3 linked regions of the Homo sapiens genome follow. The protein of the gene in region 3 interacts with the protein of the main gene of each other region in a pairwise test. Each region holds a gene or a part of one and is shown on either strand. Other genes may lie near its edges.

Region 1 (7,023 bases), on a different chromosome or scaffold from region 3:
TCTCTATCTTGGAAAAATCACTAAACTCAGTTTTTCAGAGAGAGACACAATCACTGCTCTAGGCATTGTTGTATATGTTTTATATAGGTTATCCCACTTCCCAACAGCCCCTGAGAGGAGAGTGTTATCCCCATTGCACATTAAGGTAAAAACCGGTGTAGAAACGGCCCAAAGGCAGCAATCTAGGTTTTAAATAGAGATGAGCCTTGCTCCAAGGCTAGTCTAACATGCTGCCCCCACCACGTTCCACCTGGTGACAGTATAGTCTAATTGCAGGAAATGTACTTGCAGGAGGAGAGAGATGGTTTCTTGAGATTCGGATTTGAAAGTCTATAAATACCAAATATTATCATAGTCATAAATGTTTTTGGGTCACCTGATCTCAGTTGTAGATTTACAATAGAGGGCTGTAGATGTAGCAGAAACAAGCTATCTTAAAAATAGGATCCCCCATCACTCAACACCTCCCTACCACCCACCCTTCACCCCGCAAAAAACACTACCAGGGGTTTTGTTTTGTTTTTTGGGTTTGTTTTTGTTTTTGTTTTTTTTGCTTACTGCTTCTGCCATTACTTCCTTCCACAGCCTGCAAAGGAAGGTAGGGAAGGGAGGAGCAGAAAAAAGGGATTGACTTCTCACTTTGACTGCTAAAGTCAACTGCCTAGAATTTTCCAAAGGTGCTGAGGCTGAGCAGTGTGGAATGGGTGAGCTGTTGCTGTCTTTTAGGTCCCTTCAGGCATTGTTCTCTGTCAGAATCGGCATTGGTCTCAATGAGAATGACATACAATGCAGTAAATGATATGGCTTCTAGGACCCTAGACGGAACTACACTTTTATACCTAATGTTATTGCTATCAGTCATTCCTCCCTACCCCTGGCCATCCAGCATCCTGGTAACAAATCAACTCTTCTTCTTCTTTTTCTTGCTTTTTTTTTGGTTGGTTTGTTTTTAAGAGACAGGGTCTTGCTCTCTTGCTGGACTACAGTGCCATAATCATAGCTTACTATAATCTTGAGCTCTTTGGCTCAAGTGATCCTCCCACCTCAGCCTCCCGAGTAGCTAGGACTACAGGTATGCACCACCATGCCCGACTATTTTTTAAATTTTTTGTAGAGTTGAGGTGTTGAAATGTTGCCCAGCCTGGTCTCAAACTCCTGGCCTTAAGCGATCCTTTCACCTTGGCCTCCCAAACAGATCAATCCTTCTAAAGAACTGACTTAGTCATTCCCCTGCTCAATTGTCTTTGCTGTCTCCTTGCACCTCAAACACTTTGCTTGATAATTCCAGGTCTTCGCAACCTATCAGGTGCCTTACGTACCTTTTCAGTCTTCACTCCTGTGACTCTTGCAAGCACTTTTCCCTCCACTCAAATCAGAATAGACTGCAGTACTAGAACTTACTTTGCATTTCCACCTCTCTGTCAGGAACATCCTGTCTGTCCTCTCCAGTTCATCAGGCCCAGCTCCACCATCCCTCCCCTGCTTGCCATCAAGCAGTGTACACAGGACTGCATGGCAGCTCTTTTCTCATGTGGGTCACTCTACACTGTGTCCTTGAATGATTCTGCACCCCGTAGAGAGGGGGATGTGAGGCAGGAAGGCTAACTTAGCTGCGTGTTCTCTCAGAAGGAAGGAATGAAGGAATGGCCAGAGGAGTAGACACCCTTGGAGACTGCCCACCACGAAGGCTATCAGTAAACCACCTTTTTGTACACAAACACTGATGTAGGGATTTTTTTAATGTATGGGCTGTACCTTTTTTTAGTAAGAATTCAAATTTTATTGAGCCCCAAGGGGGAAAAATTCAACTTTATTGATAGGAAAAGTATCAATGAAGAAAGTTGCCTTGCATTTTCATCACTAAAATGACAGTATTTGTATATATTCCAAAAGTAGCAATGCAAAGGCAGTTTTCCTTATTTTTATGTGAAATTATGAGATGTGAGGGCCTGGGCTGCCCATCACTGATACAAACTTTATAACTTGGCTCTGGAGATTAACCTGCCTGAGATCCTGTGCCCTAACAAGCTCCAGAAATGAGAATATCAAGGTTCTTCTCTGGCCTCCAGCAACTGGAGGCCTTGTATTAGCTGAGATTCTTCTGTGTTAACACAGCAGATTCCCTGAGTTCCAGGACTCCATTACTTGTCTTAATTCTTTAGCCTCCCTTGAGGATAACGATCATATAGTACACTCTTTTTACCCTATTCTTCTGATGAGAGGCCAGCACAGTGCCTTTTGCATAGTGGGTCATCAAGAAATTCCTGTTCATGATGATGAAGAAATGACTTGAGAGAAAGTGACTTCACCCATGTGTGTTGAATTTTTATTTTCTTTAAAACAACACATCTACTTAGTGGAAGTCATATTCAGGAAATATTCTTTATTGTACATACATGGAACCTAGGGCTCCAGCTTCCTTTACTCACCTAGCTGGACTCTCTCAACAGTACCACCTGTTAACAGATGTGGCCCCACACATAGGCATGTATGTGCCTTGCTTATGCTTGGTACAATCGAGAAGCTCTCAAAGGTGTTGCTTATGCCAAATATCCTAAAACTATTTTCCCACTGCCCTAAGGTCTTGCCTCAATTTTCAACATGACTTTTTTTTTTTTTTTGATTAAGTAAGGACTCTGTTACTAGGGAGGAAAAATACATAAAGTTATAACAACCTGATGACATCTTAGTTCTGATCAGTTTATCTGACAGGCCTCCCATTGCTCGGAACTCCCACGGCATTTAGGAGATACCTTTTATCACTGCAGTGTATTGGAATGATCTCTTTTCCTGTTTTTCAAGCCACTGAGAGCTGCTTCAGGCGATTTCCAGCACCAGGCACAATTTGCCTGGCACATGGCGGGCCTTCAAAAAGATTGTTAAACCAAACTTAAGCAGCCTGCTCCCTAGGCAAGCCTTGAGTTCCGAAATGAGTGCCTGAAAAAGCAAGCCAAGGGATGTAGTCTTGTGGTGAGGAAGTATTTCCACCAAAGGCACTGCTTGGTTGGTTTCTGCAAGGGGCGAGAGAACCACCATAGACAAACTTGCTCCTGTCACAGCTTGGCTAACCTTGACCGGTGGCTTATCTATGAAGGTGAGCAGCCTGGTTCTAATGAAGAGAACTGCCCTCAGTAATTAAAAGTTCATCATCTACAGACCCAACCCTAACCTCATAATCTAATTTAGTGTTCCCCATCCCAACAAGACCGAACCAGCTTCCTGAGGACAGGTTCTGCATCATGTACATTTCTTGTGTTCTTAAGAGTCTAGCACAAAGTTTGGCACATAATAGGAACTAAAAAAATGATGACTAACAAACACGAAGGGCTTACCATATGCCGGGCACTCCTCTAAGCATTTTATATGTATTAATTCATTTAATCCTCACAACACTAAGAGACAGATACTATTGTTATTGTCCCCATTTTACAGAAGGGGAAAGCAAAGCACCTAGGAGTTTATGTGACTTGCTCAAGGTCACATAGTTCCACAATCCATGCTTTTAGAAACTATGCCTTAGAGCGTTTATTAGTATCATTTTTATTTTTATAGAGACGGGGGCGGAGGTGGGGGGTGGGGGGTAGTTGTCCCCATGTCGTCCAGGCTGGTCTTGAATTCCTGGGCTTAGGTGAACCTCCTGCCTCGGCCTCCCAAAGTGCTGGGATTACAGGTGTGAGCCACTGTGCCCAGACTCTTAGTGTATTTAAATAGGTGTGAATGAATAAATCTCTCCCGGAACCATAACTTTATAGGAAATTGTTTGCACCTCCTGGTACACCACTAAGGCACGGTCTCCCACACTAGGTTGTTCCTAGCGCACGGTCGGTCATTCGTTGACCTTTACCCACCCTCAGTTCCTATCGCAGTATCACTTCTCGCGCCATAGCAAGGCTACCGTGCGAAGCTCTAGCCACCAGGGGGCACTGTGGCCACAGGTCCTTTTCCCCTCCGGCCCTTAGCGACCCCCAGAGGGGCGGAGCCAACGTTGGGCGGAGCCCGCGAGCCGCCCACAGCGCCAGCTATCCCGGCGGGCCGCGCGCGCGGCCGCGTTTGAATGGCCCTGAGTGGGACTCGGCCCAGAAGCCGAGGGACTCTCTAGGCTGCCGGGCGCTGGTCGTCAGCGCCGAGGCTGGGCTGAGGCGCCGCGGTACCATGAGGCGCCGGTAAGTGACTGCCGAGCCGGTGCGAGCCCCGCGCCCGCAGCTGCCCTGCCCTGGCAGGGCTACTCCAGCCGGGCTTGGCCGCGCCCTGGGCCCACCTGCAGGCCCCGCGGCGGCCTCGGCTCGGCCGGGCTCGCGGCAGCGCTGCCGGGTCCCGGGGCGGGGCGGCAAGGCCGGGGCGGAGCCCCTCTGCCGGTCCCTGCGGGGAGAGTCGGGCAGCGGGCGCTGGGGGGCTCCAGGGGACTGGGCCGGGAGAGGCGTGGACCGAACCTGTTGTCACTTATTTATCTTCGGGTGGAGTCGACAGCTGCACCTGGGGAAGGGGAAGGACAGAACGAGTGTGGGGCGAGCATTTTTGAGGACAGGTTTTCCGCAGAGCGCCTAGGCCCGGCCCAGGCATTTCCTTATTTTCCGACGGGTCCTCGGATTCCTGACGGATGAGCTTTTGTTTCGCAGGACAAAAACTTGACATAACTGCATAAGAATTGTCGATTGCAACTTTAAAAACCTTACTGTATTTTCTGAAAAGTTGTTCTGTAAAGTATCTAGGCTTTTACTACGCTCTTATATTGCTTAAATATGGAGATAACAAAGAGTTGGTTTGTTTTCTTGTGGCTTATAAAGTTCCTTGAAAACAGAGATACCTATGTCAGTTTCTTTGCTGATTTAAAAAAAATTGTAAGAGAAATTAGGTGTGTAATAATCATCAGTTCAGCACTTGCGAGAATTATGAGAAACTAGTCCACCTAATAGCTTAAATCTGCTGGGTTTTTTGGAGTTTCTTTGGATAGCCAGCTTCAGACTTGAATTGAAACGTCATCCATTGAGGCTTTTACTTGGCTAATAACTAATATTAGCCAATAATAATATTAGCCAGTGTGATCATAATGATGGGCAATATTTATTTTGTGCTTTCTATGCGCTGGGCGTATTAAGAGCTTTACTTTGGGATATATACTGTTGTCCCCATTTTGACAGTGAAGAAACTAAGGCACAGGAAATTTTAGTATTGTAACTTTTGTACCGTACAGGGTTACACAGCTAATATAATTAACACCCGAGCAGGCTGGCTCCACGCTTTTAACTCTGTTGCTCTACTACCTCCTTTATCTGTGGCTCTTTTTAGTTTACAAAGCCCTTTCATTTCATTTACTTAAACTTCGGAGACCTGAGTGTGCTTTTGTGTACACATACATTCATTCACACACCATTCATTCAAGTTTTCTGCTCTTGATGATTATACTTAAGGTTTGTGCCTGAGCAAAAAATCCATTGACTATTTTAAGATAAATGGAGTTCATAAGCTTTATGTGTGTTATAATTTATGTTTTCAATTCCTTTATATCCTTTCCTGAAAGTTTTGAAAGTGTTAGTCTTAGCAACTTATGTATTACTTTAAAATAAAAAATTACATGTTAAATGTTTTCATCCCTAAAACTTATTGAGTGGTTATTCTGTACTTGAAATGGTTATACTTAAACTAATACCTCCTTGACAAGGAATAAATTTCAAAAGCAAAATCACTTAGTAAGAAATCAGCAGTTTATACTTATCTATAGCAGAGCTTTTAAATGTCATTCATCAGTTACAAAGCTTTCGATTGCCTGTATGCCCAACAGGGTGGTAGACCCAATTGGCTATACAAAAGAAATGTGCCGCAAGAATGACACTATGGACTTTGGGGACTTGGTAGAAAGAGAGTGGGAGGGGGATGAAGGATAGAAGACTACACATTGGATACAGTGTTCACTGCTCAGGTAATGGGTGCACCAGAATCTCGGAAATCACCCCTGAAGAACTGATTCATGTAACCAAACACCACTTGTTCCCCAAAAACCTATTGAAATAAAAAATAATAAAAATAAAATAAAAAATGTGCCAGGACAACCAACCTTAGGGAGATTAATCTAGTTTGGGTTATGAGATTAACAACAAAAAATATATATGACACTCTTCGTTAGTACAGTGGATGAATGCAGAACTGAACTGGGTAAAGCTTCTGCGAAAAACTAACAATTGCAGGATTTATGTAGGGCACTGAACAGAAGGGTGGATGGTGGGGCTAGGCAGGGTTGGTAATCCCAACACTTTGGGAGGCCAAGACAGGAGGATCTCTGGAAGCCAGGAGTTCGAGAGCAGCCTAGGCAACATAGCGAGACCATATCTCTACAAAAAATTTAAAATATTTTGCCAGGCATGGTGGCATGTGTCTGTAGTCCCAGCTACTTGGGAGGCTGGGGTGGGAAGATCGCTTAAGCCCAAGAGGTCAAGGCTACAGTGAGCCGAGATTGTGCCACTGCACTTCAGTGCAGCCACAGAACTGGTGTGGCTCACACCTGTAATCCCAGCACTTTGGGAGGCCAACGGTAGGAGGAAAGCTTGAGCCCAGAAGTTTGAGACCAGCCTGGGCAACATACCAAGACTCCATCTCTACAAAACATTTTAAAATTAGGGCCAGTGGGTCATGCCTGTAATCCTAGCACTTTGGGAGGCTGAGGCAGGTGGATCACAAGGTCAGGAGATCGAGACCATCCTGGCTAACACGATGAAACCCTGTCTCTACTTAAAATACAAAAAATTAGCTGGGCGTGGTGTCACACGCCTGTAGTTCCAGCTACTTGGGAGGCTGAGGCAGGAGAATCGGTTGAACCCAGGAGGCAGAGGTTGCAGTGAGCCGAGATCGCACCACTGCCTTCCAGCCTGGGCGACAGAGTGAGACTCCATCTCAAAAATAAAATAAAATAAAATTAGGCAGGTGTAGTGGCATGCGCCTGTAGTCACAGCTGCTTGGGAGGCTGAGGTGAGAGGATTCCTTGAGTCCAGAAGTTGGAGGCTGCAGTGAGCCATGATCATATCACTGCAC
Region 2 (7,560 bases), on a different chromosome or scaffold from region 3:
CACTCAGTAGCACATTAACAAGGAGTGCCTCTCATGAGAAGTAATCAGGCGCAAAGAGCCAGGGAGCAGCGTGGGAGAAGAGATGGGGTCAGCGCCTTCCCCAGAGATGGGGTAGGGGGCGGAGACCGGGCTCACCAGGAAGGCTGTGGTCTCACGGGCTCTGCCCCAGCTGCCCACTGAGCCCTGAAATGCCTCCAGCAGGAACAGAGCCTTTGTCATGCCAGAGAGACAAAGCCAGCCAGAAACACCTCTCTGCCAGGGGCCCCTGAAAGCAACAACTTCTGGAAAAACCCATTCAGAACTAGGTTCTGACCAGAAGACAGGGTGCTGGGCCATGAAGAATGGGGCAGCCAAAGGCAAGATACAGGAAAGGAATTCCAGACTCAGCAGCGGGCACAGAGTCTGCTCCAGGGAGCCTGGGGTCCCTGGTGAACCATCCAGCTCAGACCTGGGAAGGAGGTCGTTCTCTCACCCAACCTCTCTACCCTAGCGGTGAGGCTGAAGCCCAGAGAGGGCATGGGACTCCCTAGAGTCCACAGCATGCTCATGGTAACCCTGGGATGAGAGCCCAGCCCTCCCGACCCCTAGTCCAGTATTCTTTCCTTGATTCCAAGTCACTTAAATATCTGAGCCTCAGTTTCTTCATCTGTAAAATGGATCTAATCCAGACCTCAGAGAGGGGAATGTGTTCTGTAAACACGAGGGTCTTATGTAATCATAGTAAATTCTGACTACTTCCAAATTAGACTGAGGTCTGAGGCTGGGCATTGGCAGTGTCTAATCAACATGTCTGGAGAGGGGCAGGAAAACCGAGACAAGCACACAGAGGCCACCTGTGGTCCCCCGGACTGTGTGGCTCTGCTTTGCTGAAATGATTGACCACTTTTTAAAGTACTTATGAATCACTGCAGGGCTGGTTATAATGTTGGTTCTGAGACTGCTTTTCCAGCCAGTCTGCAGGTGATATGGATGCTGCTGATCCAAGGAATGTTCTAGAACCGTGACTGCACAGCCGACCTCCTTTCCTTTGCTCGGACTCACCTCCCCCCTCATCTCCTCTGCCTCCTGGGAGCCTGGCTGCCAGCTGCCCTGGGTGGAAGAGCCATGCCAAGGCCAAGGCCCTCGAGTCCCCAGCACTACCACACAGCCTCATTCTCCCTAAGAAGGCTTAAACCACTTGGCCTTGCTCCTTCTACCAGAAAAGGCCGGTTCTGTGGACAAAGGGGCTGCTCAGGGGAAGAGGAGGAGGAGAAGATGGCGGGGGGTGGGGGGCAGGGGGGGCGGGGGGAGCAGGCAGACTTTGGGAGCAACTCCCCTCCAGGCACACCCTCCTGGGAACTTTGAACTGAGCAGCTTCCCAAAACGTTTCCAAGCAGGGCAGGGCTGGAGGCTTAAGAAAATCAATGACCTGGCAGGGCGCATTGATTCACACCTGTCACCCCAGCACTTTGGGAGGCCAAGACAGGCGGATTACTTGAGATCAGGAGTTCGAGACCAGCCTGGCCAAGGTGGTGAAACCATGTCTCTACTAAAAATACAAAAATTAGCCGGATGTAGCAGCATGCGCCTGTAGTCCCAGCTACTCAGAGGCTGAGGCATGAGAACTGCTTGAACCCGGATGGCGGAGGTTGCAGTGAGCCGAGATGGCGCTACTCTACTCCAGCCTGGGCAACAGAGTGAGACTTGGTCTCAGGAAAAAAAAAAAAAAAGAGAGAAAAGAAAGAAAGAAAATCAATGACTGTGAACAGGGAGCCGTGGGGAGGATGGGAAGACAGTGAAGAGGGCACACAGATGGTGAGGGTTTCAATCCCAAAGCCCCGGCTCCTATCTGCTTCTTCAAATGGAGAAAACTAAACCAAAAGGAAAATAAGAAAAATAATCACCGGTAATTCATATCACCCAGAGGCAAAGGTTAGCACTGTGGTATATTTCCTTCTGTCTTCCATGCAGTTTATACAAGATTCTTCACATTCACCATCTTCAAATATTCTTTAAGGGCATACTTTTATGGCTATGTAATACTCCACTTACTCACGGACCTAAGTTTATTTTACCATTCTCACAAGATTGGCCATTTCAGTTGTGCCCAATGCTCCACTATTATTATAACTTAACATTTTCATGGGCATCTTTTTTTATATAGTATCTGTACTTTCCTTTAAATTCCTAACCTCTCCGTTTAAAAAATAATAATAAAAATCATATTTTTTTTAACTAGGTCCAGAAATTCTGGAAGGTCAAGAGGCTTTGGCTCGAATCCCAATTCTGATACTTATTTGCTGTTTAGTGTTGGCACCAGTCCTAAACCTCTCCAGGCCTCAGATTATCATCTGTAAAATGAGACTGTGGAATCAGAGGTCTGAGGCCTGGTGGATCTTGTGTGACTTTTCTCTGATGCACCTCAGATGCATTAGGAGGCAGAAAAAGTCGGATTTCGGTGGTTGCAGCATATACTGAAATCCGCAGCCTCATACTTACAGGCAACAGTGTCCAGAGAGCTAGAGAATTTAGAAGAAAACTAGATGACTCATGCATGCAAGCCGAAAGCCACAACTGAGAGATCCGCATCTTCGCAGAGGATATGCTGCAGGAAGGAGCTCGGTGCAGGCCAGCTCTGTCACCTGCTAGCCTGGGTCTCCCGCAACGCGGCAGGTCTCCAGGTCTCAGTTTCCCCATCTTTGCGAAAGGATGATCATTATATCTGTTCTATTTACCCCCCCACCACAGAATTGTGGTTGGAGCTCGTGCTCTCAGGCGGCGGTTGCGCCGGGGCCCCTGGCTCAGCTGCCTGGTGATGGGGCTCCGGCCACCTCCCCTCCCTGGCTTCCTGGGCTCCGTCGAAAGCGCAGGGGTTGTGACTGCGAGCTGTGTCATCCCTCTCTGCCTGGCTGCCATCCCCTGCCCGCCCATCCGTCCTGGTGTGGCTCTGCTCAAGGGTAGGGAAGACGGGGACATCTCACCGGTCAGCGGCACCCTGTGCCCGCGCGCTCCTCCTGGCGACGCCGCGTTGTGGGCACTGGGAGGCGCCGTATTTATAGCGCTCTGCTCGCGCACACACCCCCTTTGGGGCTGGCTGCAAACCTGCATGACTCACGCCCAAAGAATGCCGCGGAAAGCAAGGGGAGCTTTCTGGAAGCCGGGAGGTGGGGGCCGGTGCAGCACCGGGCTGGGGGCGCCGGGGGGCGCATCATCACCACGAATAGCTGTGCTGGCTCCAGGAGAGACCCTGAGGTGCGGCCGCTCGGCGCTTCCAGTAGGGAAGAGCCTGAACTCGCGTGCCCATCTGGGAGCCCCTCTCACGCGGTTAGCCCGGCTGTCTGTCCCAGTCCAAGACACAATCTCACAGTTCCCTGGCCCTACTGACCTTAACCTTCACATTACACAAGCGCCACTTCTCTTGACCCATTTAAATAGTAAAGAGTCAGACATAATGAGGGTGGGATGGAGAGGGGCCTTGTGCTGGAGAAGAGAGCACAGGAAGTATTGAAACGCCTACTCCTGGAAACATCACACTGATGGGGGTCCCTGGACTGACCCGCCAGGCCTGGAGGAAACAGAATTGTGTTTAGGAGTGATCAGAGCAGATATGTGGAGAGCCAGAAGGCCTCTCCGGGGTCCTTGATCCACAGAGCTTAAGCAATCACTGTCCCCATCTTTTTGGAACCCAACCAAGCAGGGTGGGCTTCATGGCTGTGGGACCCTTGCAGATCCACGTTTGGTTTAATGGGCTACTGTGACGGTCTTGAAATTCTTCATAGTTTTTGAACCAGTGGACCTGAATTTTTATTTTGCCCTGAGCCTTCCCAGTTAGGAAATCAGATCTGTGTCCAGAGGGGTTTGCTGGTCTCCAACTGCTGGAGTTCCTTCTGCTGAGAGCAGGGAGAATCTCCTGTCGCAGCCACCCCTCCCCCTGGCAAGGAGGGGCAAATCTAGGAACCCTGGAGGTGCAGCTACTTCTTGGGGAAGAAAGTGAGCTGCCCATTTTGGAGCCAGGGATGTTTAAGCCCCAGGAGAGAAGTCAAGGGGCTGACAGCTGGGGCAATGGGTGGACAGGGCGGGTACAGGCAGCCCCACTGTGGGTGGCAGACTTTGAAAACCATGTGAAACAAAGGGGCTTAAAGGAGAGCTGCGTGGTCAGGGGCTGAGTTTTCCAGTTCAGGATCAGGACTATGGAGGCACAACATGGAGGCCCAGTCCCTTGCTTGCCCAACGTCCAGGGGCCACTAGGACCCCAGTCCTTTTCAGGAGGCAGCCTCGGGGAATCTTCAAGGCCCATGACTAAGTGGGAGAACCCAGACCAGGTCCATGAAAGTCTGATTACAGTCCTAGGTGTGCCCCTAGACACTGGGTGACCTCGGACTAATCACTTTGCCCTTGGGCCTCAGTTTCTTCCATCTGGACGATGAGGAATCGGGAATGGATCATCTCCACGGCTCCCTGCAACCTAACCTAGAGCCAAGCCAAGTATTAGAAGGCCATTAACCCAGAAGAAGAAAAAAATGTCCCAGAAGAGGCTACACTTTATTTTTCTTAAAAAAAAAATGTCTAATTATCAGTAACAGCTACATTTTCTGTGGACAGTGCCTGCTCCTTATCAGTGCCTGCTCCTTATCAATACCTGAGGTTAGAAGAATTGTTTTTGAGCTCGCTCCTTGTAACTTTTCTGTTCTGTAGCTCCCTCAGCATCCGGAACAGAAGGCATAAATCTAGTTATATTTTTAAAAATTAGACTTTGGAGGTCAGTCAGTGAGATCCGCCTTAGCCAGCTGAATTAGGGGAAGGGAAGAGAGGAAGAAAGGACTTGGGAGAAAATAGCATGATTCACAGATTCACAGTCATGACTGTGATCCCTTGGGAATAATTACTTGATTATTCCCACTACTAAGCAAACAAGGTTCAGAAGGTCAAACTTTGAGGAAAGAAAAGTGTAAATTTTGAAAGCGCCATAAATGCATCACCAGATGTTTCATATTCTAAGCAGATCATAGACATTGATTGGTTCAGGACTCACACACTGCTTGATTCCTACCCCATCCCCAGCATCTGCACCCGGTGGTCATCCTGCCCATGTTTGAATGCCACCAATAACAGGGAGCTCACTACCTGCCATGCAACCATTTGTCTAGTAAAGCTGTTGATAAAGTTAGGGCCTTCTTTGGTTGAGTCACAGTCTGGCTCGTGTATGGGCCAATCCGGAGCCCAGTTCTGCCCTCTGGAGCCACACAGAGAAAATCCAGCCTATCTCTCCCATAGTGCCCCTTCTGATATTTGAAGGCAACGTAGTCTGCTTTTCCCAGTGACCTCCAGGCTTGCAGCTCCTTGCCTTGCCGTGGTTTGCAGACTTTTCCCCAGCCCTTTGACATTCTGGACCTCATCTCTCTTGAAACCCTTGGCCCAGCCCTGGACTAGCCAATGCCAGTGGGGAGCCTTGGACCAGCCAATGCCGGAGGGCCTGAGCACACAAAGCAGAACAGGACCACCCCTTCCCTTGCCCTAAACACTCCAAATAAGCTTTATCAGATGCTGAGTCACTGGGCTGATTCATAGAGAATGCATCATCTTCTTGGCAGGTGCTGCTGTTTGATCCTCTGTCTCCCATTATGGACTTACACAGCTGGGTTTGGGGCATTAGCTTGATTTATTTTCTTGGAGAGTCAGAGCCATGGGGAGGGCCAGGGAGGGATGAGTAAAGACCCTTGCATTTATCTGTTTATCTATGCTTTGTGCACCATCTCTGGCTGCCTGAATGTCTCTGGGGCTGCTTCGCTACGCAGTGTCCTTATTACACATCCCCAACCAGCCTTTGTCTGGCTCAGCACCACAAGCAGGACAGCTCAGCCAGCAGTCTGATACAGCTGGAACAAACTAGGAATGGGCAAGAGCAGTATCCTGTGGCCTGTGATTAAGAATCACTCTCAGATGGGCGTGGTGACTCACACCTGTAATCCTAGCACTTTGGGAGGCTGAGGTGGGAGGATCACTTGAGTCCAGGAGTTCAAGACCAGCCAGGGCAACATAGCAAGACCCAGTTTCTACAAAAATTAAAAAATTAGCCAAGCATGGTAGTGCATGCCCGCAATCTCAGCTACTCAGGAAGCTGAGATGGAGTATCGCTTGAGCCCAGGAGGTCAAGGCTGCAGTGAGCTACGATCGCACCACTGCACTCCAGCCTGGGCAATAAAGTGAGACCCTGTCTCTCAAAAATAAAAATGAAAAAAATAAGAGAATCACTCTCCAAGGGGAGCAGGGAGGGAGGATGGTGAGAGATTGGTCAACCAGTACACAGTTAAAGTCAGATGGGAGGGATAAGTTCTGGTATTCTATCGCATAGTAGAGTTTAACTTTTTTTTTAGGTCCCAGTATCTATTGCTCCCCTCTATGTGTCCATGTGTTCTCATCATTCAGCTCCCACTTATAAGTGAAAACATGCAGAATTTTGTTTTCTGTTCCTGTGTTACTTCACTTAGAATAATAGCCTCCAGCTCCATCCATGTTCCTGCAAAAGACATGATCTCGTTCTTTTTTATGGCTGCATAGTATTCCATGGTGTATACCGTAGTATTCCATGGTGTATATATACCATATTTTCCTTATCCAGTCTGCCACTGATGGGCATTTAGGTTGATTCCATGCCTCTGCTATTGAGAATAGTGCTGCAATGAACATATGAGTGCATGTGTCGTTATGGCAGAGCAATTTATATTCCTATATATACCCAGTAATGAGATTGCTGGGTGAAATGTTAATTCTGTTTTTAGCTCTTTCAGGAATCATCACACTGCTTTCCAAAATGGTTGAACTAATTTACACTCCCACCAACAGTGTATATAAGCCTTCCCTTTTATCCACAACCTCACCAGCACCTCTTATTTTTTGAATAATGTATATTTCAACATAGGTAGAAGAGAGAACTTACAATGTTCTCACCACAAAGAAATGTTTGAGATGGATTTGGTAATTACCCTAATTTGATCCTTACACAATGTGTGCACGTATCAAAACATCACATTGTACCCCACAAATATGTACCATTCTCGTGTCAGTTTTAATTTTTTTTAACTTAGTGAAAGGCTGGGTGCAGTGGCTCACGCCTATAATCCCAACACTTCAGGAGGCCGAGGTGGGGAGATCACTAGGTCAAGAGACCATCCTGGCCAACATGGTGAAACCCTGTCTCTACTAAAAATACAAAAATTAGCTGGGCATGGTGGCACGCGCCTGCAGTCCCAGCTACTCGGGAGGCTGAGGCAGGAGAATTGCTTGAACCCGGGAGCTGGAGGTTACAGTGAGCTGAGATCGCACCACTGCACTCCAGCCTGGCAACAGAGTGAGACTCCATCCAAAAACAAACAAACAAACAAACAAAAGGATGGATTTGCTAATTACCCTAATTCGATCATTACACAAACGATCTTAGTAAAAAGATCACAAATGATTCTTAGTAAAAAAGAATCACTTTCCAAGCTGTAATTATTTAATGGGTATATACATTTATTTAATCAATTACAGGCCCATGATCAAATGGTGGCTAATAAAATCATATCCAGTGAAATCAGCCCA
Region 3 (7,818 bases):
TTAGCTAATGACTAAATTAACTTACTTAGAGTAAGCAAGATGCAATGTGAAATTTTAACTCAAGTGACAGAATCAAATTTTTAAAAATACTGAAATCGCAATTTTACAGCAAATTTTCTAGCAATATAGTATGTGATGCAGTGCTGTCTCTCCACAGAGAAAGTTTTTTTTTTTCTCCTCTAGGATTAGGAAAAAGAAGTGATCACAGAGACTGAAAAAGAACAGGCAAAATATTGAAATATCTGAGTTCTAAGATTCTTATTCTCTCTCTAAACAACAAATACAGGGCCCTGCCTATTTCACACCTAAAGAGGATACCTTACCCATTTAATTTTTAAAGGACTCAGGCTGGGCTCCACTTATTTGCAGTTTTTTTTAACATAATGTGCATGGGTCATTCATTCAAGAAATATTAAAGGAACACCAACTAAGTTGCAAGGAATTGCACTGAAGACAAAAATAAGACAGAATTAGACCTTGAAATCCTTGAAGTTTAATAGAAGGGATATCACCTTATTTATTCTAGGTGGGTTTTCTTTGCTTAGTAAGAGAAGACAAACATAGAATATTATTAAACACAGACTAAAAAATCAGCAGCAATGTTGGAAGGCTGAAAGTGTTTTTTAAATACCTCTCTGTAAAATTTACCTCCTAAAACAAAAAGATCACGAAGCCCAATCATGCATCTTCCTGAAGGCATTTCAGTAAAGCAAGTGTATATGACTTCAAAAGTGGCCATACATTGGTAAGTAATTTTCAGAATGTTCATCTCTGGGATATGAAAGAAACCACATGCTAATTTATAGTCAGCCACTGATGATTACGAATAAGCACAATAAATGAATGACCCATGACCAATTACAGCATGGCATACATTTTTCTTACCTTTATAACCATCATATGATAAATACTTAAGCACAAGAAAGTTACCACTATTTTTTAAAAACACCAAAAAGCAACCTGTTCAGAAAAAAAGTACATATAAAGTCCACTCTATTTGTACAGTAAACTTTCAGTTTACCCTAAACAAACAAATCAGTGAGTTTAATTATTAAAACGTAATTTAAAAGTCATATTCAAGCCCTATCGATAAACGCCACAAGCAAAAGCTATTTGGCATGTTATCAACACTGACCATATTTATGTGATAATACTATCTTTTTTAAACAGTCAAGTGGCTAAAAAAACCCAAACTATTGTTAATAGAAATTCAACAATGTTGTTAATAGAGTGAATTCAACAAGATTCTCTAATCCTCAATATTTGTCAGCATCTTGATACCAGTTTCAAAATGAGGTGGAGAATCCCTTGTGGACTACATAGCATGCCTATTACCTATAAAAATGTAAACGCTTCTTGAATAACCAACGCTATAAAGAAGCTTTATATAGCTTTTCATAGTCTAGGAATGTTGGGAAGTTGATCACTACTGCGTGTTTTTTTTTTTAAAGGTATTTACAGGCCACAACTTGTTAATGTTAATACAAAACAAAGTTTTGCTCCTATTTCTTGGTATAAGAACAAAAACCGGCCGGGCGCAGTGGCTCACGTCTGTAATCCCAACACTTTGGGAGGCCTAGGCGGGCGGATCACAATGTCTGGAAATCGAGACCAGCCTGGCCAACATGGTGAAACCCCATCTCTACTAAAATACAAAAAATTTGCCGCGCGTAGTGGAGCGCGCCTGTAGTCACAGCTACTCAAGGAGGCTGAGGCAGGGGAATCGCTTGAACCCGGGAGGCGGAGGTTGCAGTGAGCCAAGATTGCGCCACTGCACTCCAGCCTGGCGACAGAGCAAGACTCCGTCTCAAAAAAAAAAAAAAAAAAAAAAAAAAGAACAAAACCCAGCTCTTTTGGAAAAGAAAATAGGGCTTTATACTGAGACATTTAAGCCCGTAAAAACATTTCAAGAATCTGTCTTAACATCTACTAAGGTGATTATCATTGTGATTACGTGACAAAGATCTACTGCACCCATTCTAAAACATCGGGAATGTTTTCAGCAATAACTAGAGGTCTAATTTCAAAGAGGAAGACGTAAATTAGTGCTTTCAAGAGAAAAGAGCATCACTGTGCTGTTGGAAGTTAGTAACTAATATAAAAGCGGCCCTTCGCGGTTTTAACAGGAAACTATTTTTGATTAAATAAGAGCTTGAGATTATCCACTGTAAGGCACTTCAGGATCTACGTTTATCTCTAACTTTGTCATCACATTTGTATGAAACAACTGTTTCGAGGGAAAACTTTTCTAAAAGGTACCAACTCTAAACCAAAAGGCCCACAGGCCTTCCAGAGGACGCCGGGCTCTAGAATAAATAAGAAATAACATCCCCAACAATATCACTCGAACCTAACAAATTTTAAGAAAAGAAGTTGCCTCCCAATGTCATGGCCATCGGGATTTTTACCTGTGAGGGTTTCGGGGTGGGGGGCGTGAGCGGGTTCTGGAGAGAACCAGTCGAAAAATCGAAGAACTAAAAACTCGGCTGGTGACTTCGCTAACGACACAGATCAAAAGATGGGATCGACAGGAGCCCCCGAAAAGTCCTCCGCCTGACAGGATTCCTCAGGTAGGGGGACTGTCACCTAAGCCAAGTTATCGTGGACAACAGCAAGGACCTAGGACCTCAGCTCAGGCACAGGCAGGCTCACGGAGGGTTGCGCGGCGGGTTCTCGCTGTGGGCCCCCCGAGTCCCTCACCAGCCCGGCCCTGGAAAATCGGGGGTCCCCAGAGCACCGCCAGAGTGAAAACTCACCTGCGGCGGCCCAAGCTCCTCGGGAAACCGCCCAACGCCAGGCACAGGGGATTGGCGGAGTGGAGATCCCGGCAGCGAGGAAGGAGGGCCTGACCCAGTCCAGCCCACTTTGCTCTCCGCTCACGGCCCCAGTACTGCCCAGTTCAATCGTCAACACCACCTGCCGGCGCGGCTCCTGCTCGCCGAGAATTTGAAGACAAACCCGCCAGGGTCACTTCCGGTGCCGGGGACGACCTCGGCGACTCTGGCGCACGCGGGGCGTCGCCCCGGGAGCGAGGTCGCTGGGCGGGAGCGGCGGAAGAGGGTGTGGCCGGGCCCGGGGCCGCGCGTGCGCATTCTTGCACCGCCTCCTCCCGGCGGACGCAGCGGAGACCAGGGATAGTATAGACCTTGGTGTAGATGGTATTATGGTACTACCTCGCGCGCCTCTGTACCTTGTTCAGGTGCTTGCTCACTTTCCCTCCCACTTGATTTTCACCACACTCACACACACACCGAGGTCAGGTGTCTATTTTAGAGGTGAATGTCCAGGATCAAGCAATTCGTTTATGACAAATCCTGTTTTAGAACCTAGTATTCAGAATTCCCCAGCTGGGCTCCATGTCATGACATAACAATAGGGAGGAGGTAAACAAAGATTCTCGGACACACTGCTAGTGGGATTTTATTTTCTTGATTTTTTAATCACCGTTTTAATATGACCAGACAAGGAAAATGATGCTATTTCATGACTTACAGATATGTACTGCACAGGGCTTCCTCCAGTCTCAATCTCCACCCTCTGCCATCACTTGAGGCAGAATAGGGCACTTCTCACACATTCCTTTAAAAACGCAAGGTAATTAAGTTTCTAACATTAAAGCATCCCGACTGGGCACAGTGGCTCATCCCTGTAATCCCAGCACTTTGGGAGGCTGAGGCGGGAGAATAGCTTGAGCCGGGAGTTCAAGACCAGCCTGGGCAATATAGTGAGACCCCCCGTCTCTACAAAAAGTACAAAAATTGGCTGGACATGGTGGCGCACGCCTGTAGTCACAACTACTCAGGAGGCTGACACAAGAGGATCACTTGAGCCCAGGAGTTGGAGGCTGCAGTGGGCCATGATGGCGCCATTGCACTCCAGTCTGGGAGACAAAGTGAGGCCCTATCTCTAAAAAAATAAAAGCACCCCAGTCATCTAACATAGACATGTAGAAGCAATTCAGGGGAAATACATCCATTCAGTCAACAAATGTTTACTCAGCAACTACTATGTGTGAGACAGTGTTGGCACTGGGTATACAGTGGTCACGAAATAGAATGTTTCATGGGGCTTAAAGTCTTGTAACGTCTCAACTGAGTGGAAAATGATAGTTTCACTGTAGTAAATATGAACTCTATTGTAATAGGGAACAGGAAACTATATTTAGTATATATTTTTGGAATCAAAACCAATTCAGGGAGGTACAGATTAATTACCCTAATTCAACCTTCATCCTTTATGTGAGTTCAAAGGTATGCTAATTTATAAAGCCAATTTACAGTTAAAAAACTTCTCAAAGGCCACAAAATTAATACATATTGTATGATTCCATTGATAAGAAATTCTAGGCCAGGCACGGTGGCTCATACCTGTAATCCCAGCACTTTGGGAGGCCGAGACGGGTGGGTCACTTGAGGTCAAGGCGTTTGAGACCAGCCTGGCCAACATGGTGAAACCCCGTCTCTACTAAAAATACAAATATTAGCTGGGTCTGGTGGCGCACACCTGTAATCTCAGCTACTTGGGTGGCTGAGGCACGAGAATCGCTTGAACCCAGGAGGCAGAGGCTGCAGTGAGCCAAGATCGCGCCATTGCACTCCAGCCTGGGTGACAGAGCAAGACTCTGTCTCAAAAAAAAAAAAAAGAAAAAGAAAAGAAATTTTAGAACAGGCAAAACTAATCTATAATAATAGCTGATCAGTGGTTGGCTGCCTGAGGCTGTATTCAGGAGGAGGGGGAGAAGAAATAGATTGCTGAAAGTCCCCAGGAAATATTTAAGGTGATGGAAAGGAAATGTTCTGTTAGGGTAGTGCTTACACAGGTGTAAACATTTATTAAAATTCATCAACAGTACACAAACTGGGCACATTTTATTACGTGTACGTACGCGTATTATATATGAAGATTTTTTGGGTTTTTGTTGTTGTTTTGAGACAGAGTGTAGCTCTGTCGCCCAAGCTGGAGTGTAGTGGTGCGATCTCGGCTCACTGCAACCTCCACCTCCCAGGTTGAAGCCTCACCCTCCCCGAGTAGCTGGGATTACAGGTGCCCGCCACCATGCCCAGCTAATTTTTGTATTTTTAGTAGAGACGGGGTTTCACTGTGTTGGCCAGTCTGGTCACGAACTCCTGACCTCATGATCTGCCCGCCTCAGCCTCCCAAAGTGCTGGGATTACAAGTGTGAGCCACCGCTCCTGGCTGAAGACTTTTTTTAGGTGGAAAGACAAACCTCCAGAGAGTGGCTTACATTCACTACTTCCATTTCTTTACTAGCTGTACTAGTCAGGCAGGAGTGGGTTATGCTGTAGCAACCTCTAAGTCACAGAGGCTTCAACAATAGCATTTTTTTCTTATCTACTTTTTATGTTCATAGCTTGAGTGGATGCAGGCAGTGGGACCCTTGGCAGTGAAAAAAAGAAAGGGAAATAAATTGCACAGCCTCTGCCTGGATGTGAAACTTGCTGCTCTGCCTACATATTTTTGGCCAGAGCAAGTCACTGGTCAAGCCTGACTTCAAAGAAATGCAGGTGTTCATCTCTGCATTGTGCCTTGAAGAAGCAGAATATTTGTGTACCACTCTCATGACTAGGAGTCATTTCTTCTTTTACAGTGTGGCTTCTACAACCACCACCCTTCTAAAATGATTGTATCCAAACTGTGACTCAGAAAATCTGAGATTATATTTTCCTGGTGAATGGTCAGGTTAATTTGGCAGAATCACAGGACACACAAAAACAAGTTAGGGGAAAAGAGGTAGAAAGATAGGTGCCAGCTAAAGAGTTAAACTTTATTCAGTAGACAAAAGGGGACCCATTGAAAGGTGTCAAATGAAGACATAAGTTATATAGCAAATAGGAGGATTAATTTGACAGCTAAACGTAGGAAGTTTTGGAGGGGAGAGAGAATAGATTGGGGGACTGTTGCAAGAGGTACTGTGACCCCTGGAATTACACAGAAGGTGAATGGCCATGAAGACCTTCTTCACATTATATATTTGTTTCTCTTGCCCCAGTGAGTAAACTTAATGAAGTCAGATACTTTGTCCATTTGAGTAGAGCAATGTCTGGCATATTGTAGGTGTTAATTAGATATTTGTAGAATAAATAAAATAATTTCAAAGAATTTGAGGGCCAAGTGTGGTGGCTCACGCCTGTAATCGCAGCACTTTGGGAAGCCAAGGCAGGAGGATCACCTGAGGTCAGGAGTTTGAGACCAGCCTGGCCAAAATGTCAAAACCCCATCTCTACTAAAAACACATAAATTAGTGGGTGTGCTGGTGGGCGCCTGTAGTCCCAGCTACTCGGGAGGCTGAGGCAGGAGAATCACTTGAACCCAGAAGTGGAGGTTGCCGTGAGCAGAGATTGCACCACTGCACTCCAGCCTGGGCAACAGAGCAAGACTCTGTCTCAAAAAATAAATACATAAAAGAATTTGAGACACTTTTTACATTTCATGAGAGAAATTGGAAAGGACTTTTAGGGCCAGTTTATTAACTTCACTCACGTGGTTGATGCATCTGGCATTCCTCTTCTATACTTCAAACATTTGAGCCATCTCCTGGGATACAGTATGTATAAGGCTAGAAAAATCTAACCATAAGTAAGATTTACTGAATTTTTAGATTATGTCACACCATAGCTGCAGTAACAGACTGGGACAGATTCACCAGTGTTCTTCACTAACCTTATACACATTCTTCCTAAACAACAGCTTCCATCACTGATCTGCTAATACCAGGCTGTTGAATGCTACGAAGAAAATCACATCTCTGTGAAGATTGATGCGCCATAATTTCATGTCTTTCTAACCCAGCCGAAACATTTTTCTGCCTGTCTCACTTCAGTTATGTCTCACTCTTCCCATTAGTTCAGACTTTCATTTTTTGAAACAGGGTCTTGCTCTGTCCCCCAGGCTGGAGTGCAGTGGCAGGATCTCGGCTCACCGCAGCCTTGACCCACTAGGCTCAAGCCATCGTCCTGTCTCAGCCTCCTGAGTAGCTAGAACTACGGGCACATGACACCAAGCCCAGAAAATTTTTAAATTTTTTGTAGAGACAAGGTCTCACCATGTTGGCCCAGGCTGGTCTCGAACTCCTGGGTTCAGATGATCTTCCCACTGCAGCCTCCCAAAGTGCTGGGATTACAGACGTGAGCCAGTGCACCCAACCTATTTCAGACTTTTACCCCAGAAAGGCAGCTACCCAGCCCTTTCTGCCCTTTCAGTGAATTACTATGCCTCCAACCTCAAAGAAATAGAAGCTATCAGAAATTCTCTCAACTTGGGCCAGGCACGGTGGTTCAGGCCTGTAATCCCAGCACTTTGGGAGGCCGAGGTGGGTGGATCACCTGAGGTCAGGAGTTCAAGACCAGGCTGTCCAACATGGTGAAACCCTATCTCTACTAAAAATACAAAAATTAGCTGGGCATGGTGGCACGTGCCTATAATCCCAGCTACTTGGGAGGCTGAGGGAGGCGAATTGCTTGAACCCAGGAGGCAGAGCTTTCAGTGAACCGAGATCACACCACTGCACTCCAGCCTGGGCAACACAGCAAGACCCTGTCTCAAAAAATAATAATTAAAAAAAAAAAGAAATTCTCTCAGCTTGCTCACTGCGGCAGAGACTGGATGCCAAATACCCATTCTCATAACAGAACCTGGTTGATAAAATCAGACCACCTGGAATAAGGACTATTTCCCAGACACTCTTGCTGCTAGATGTGACCATGGATCTAACTTCTGGCAGTGAAAGTGTTGTGTAGAACTTTTAGGAAGGCATCTTTAAAAGGAGAAGCCATAGAAATCTCCCTCCACCCCTCCCCC

What was found. The genes of interacting proteins can lie anywhere in the genome.
Region 1: the proteins of KATNA1 (region 3) and KATNBL1 interact in binary tests that used the Homo sapiens proteins (3 or more experiments, as listed by UniProt).
Region 2: the proteins of KATNA1 (region 3) and CLU interact in a two-hybrid assay, tested with the Homo sapiens proteins (one study listed by BioGRID).

The regions. Positions count from the first base shown.
Region 1 is NC_000015.10:34,207,091-34,214,113, reverse strand, and holds the start of KATNBL1 (KATNB1-like protein 1), read left to right. Parts: upstream 1-4,017; 5' UTR 4,018-4,163; intron 4,164-7,023.
Region 2 is NC_000008.11:27,611,695-27,619,254, forward strand, and holds the start of CLU (clusterin isoform 1 preproprotein), read right to left. Parts: upstream 3,007-7,560; 5' UTR 2,961-3,006; intron 58-2,960; exon of another isoform or gene 1-57.
Region 3 is NC_000006.12:149,645,713-149,653,530, forward strand, and holds the start of KATNA1 (katanin p60 ATPase-containing subunit A1), read right to left. Parts: upstream 3,003-7,818; 5' UTR 2,757-3,002; intron 2,532-2,756; exon of another isoform or gene 2,409-2,531; intron 772-2,408; exon of another isoform or gene 649-771; intron 1-648. UniProt on the Homo sapiens protein: Catalytic subunit of a complex which severs microtubules in an ATP-dependent manner. Microtubule severing may promote rapid reorganization of cellular microtubule arrays and the release of microtubules from the centrosome following nucleation.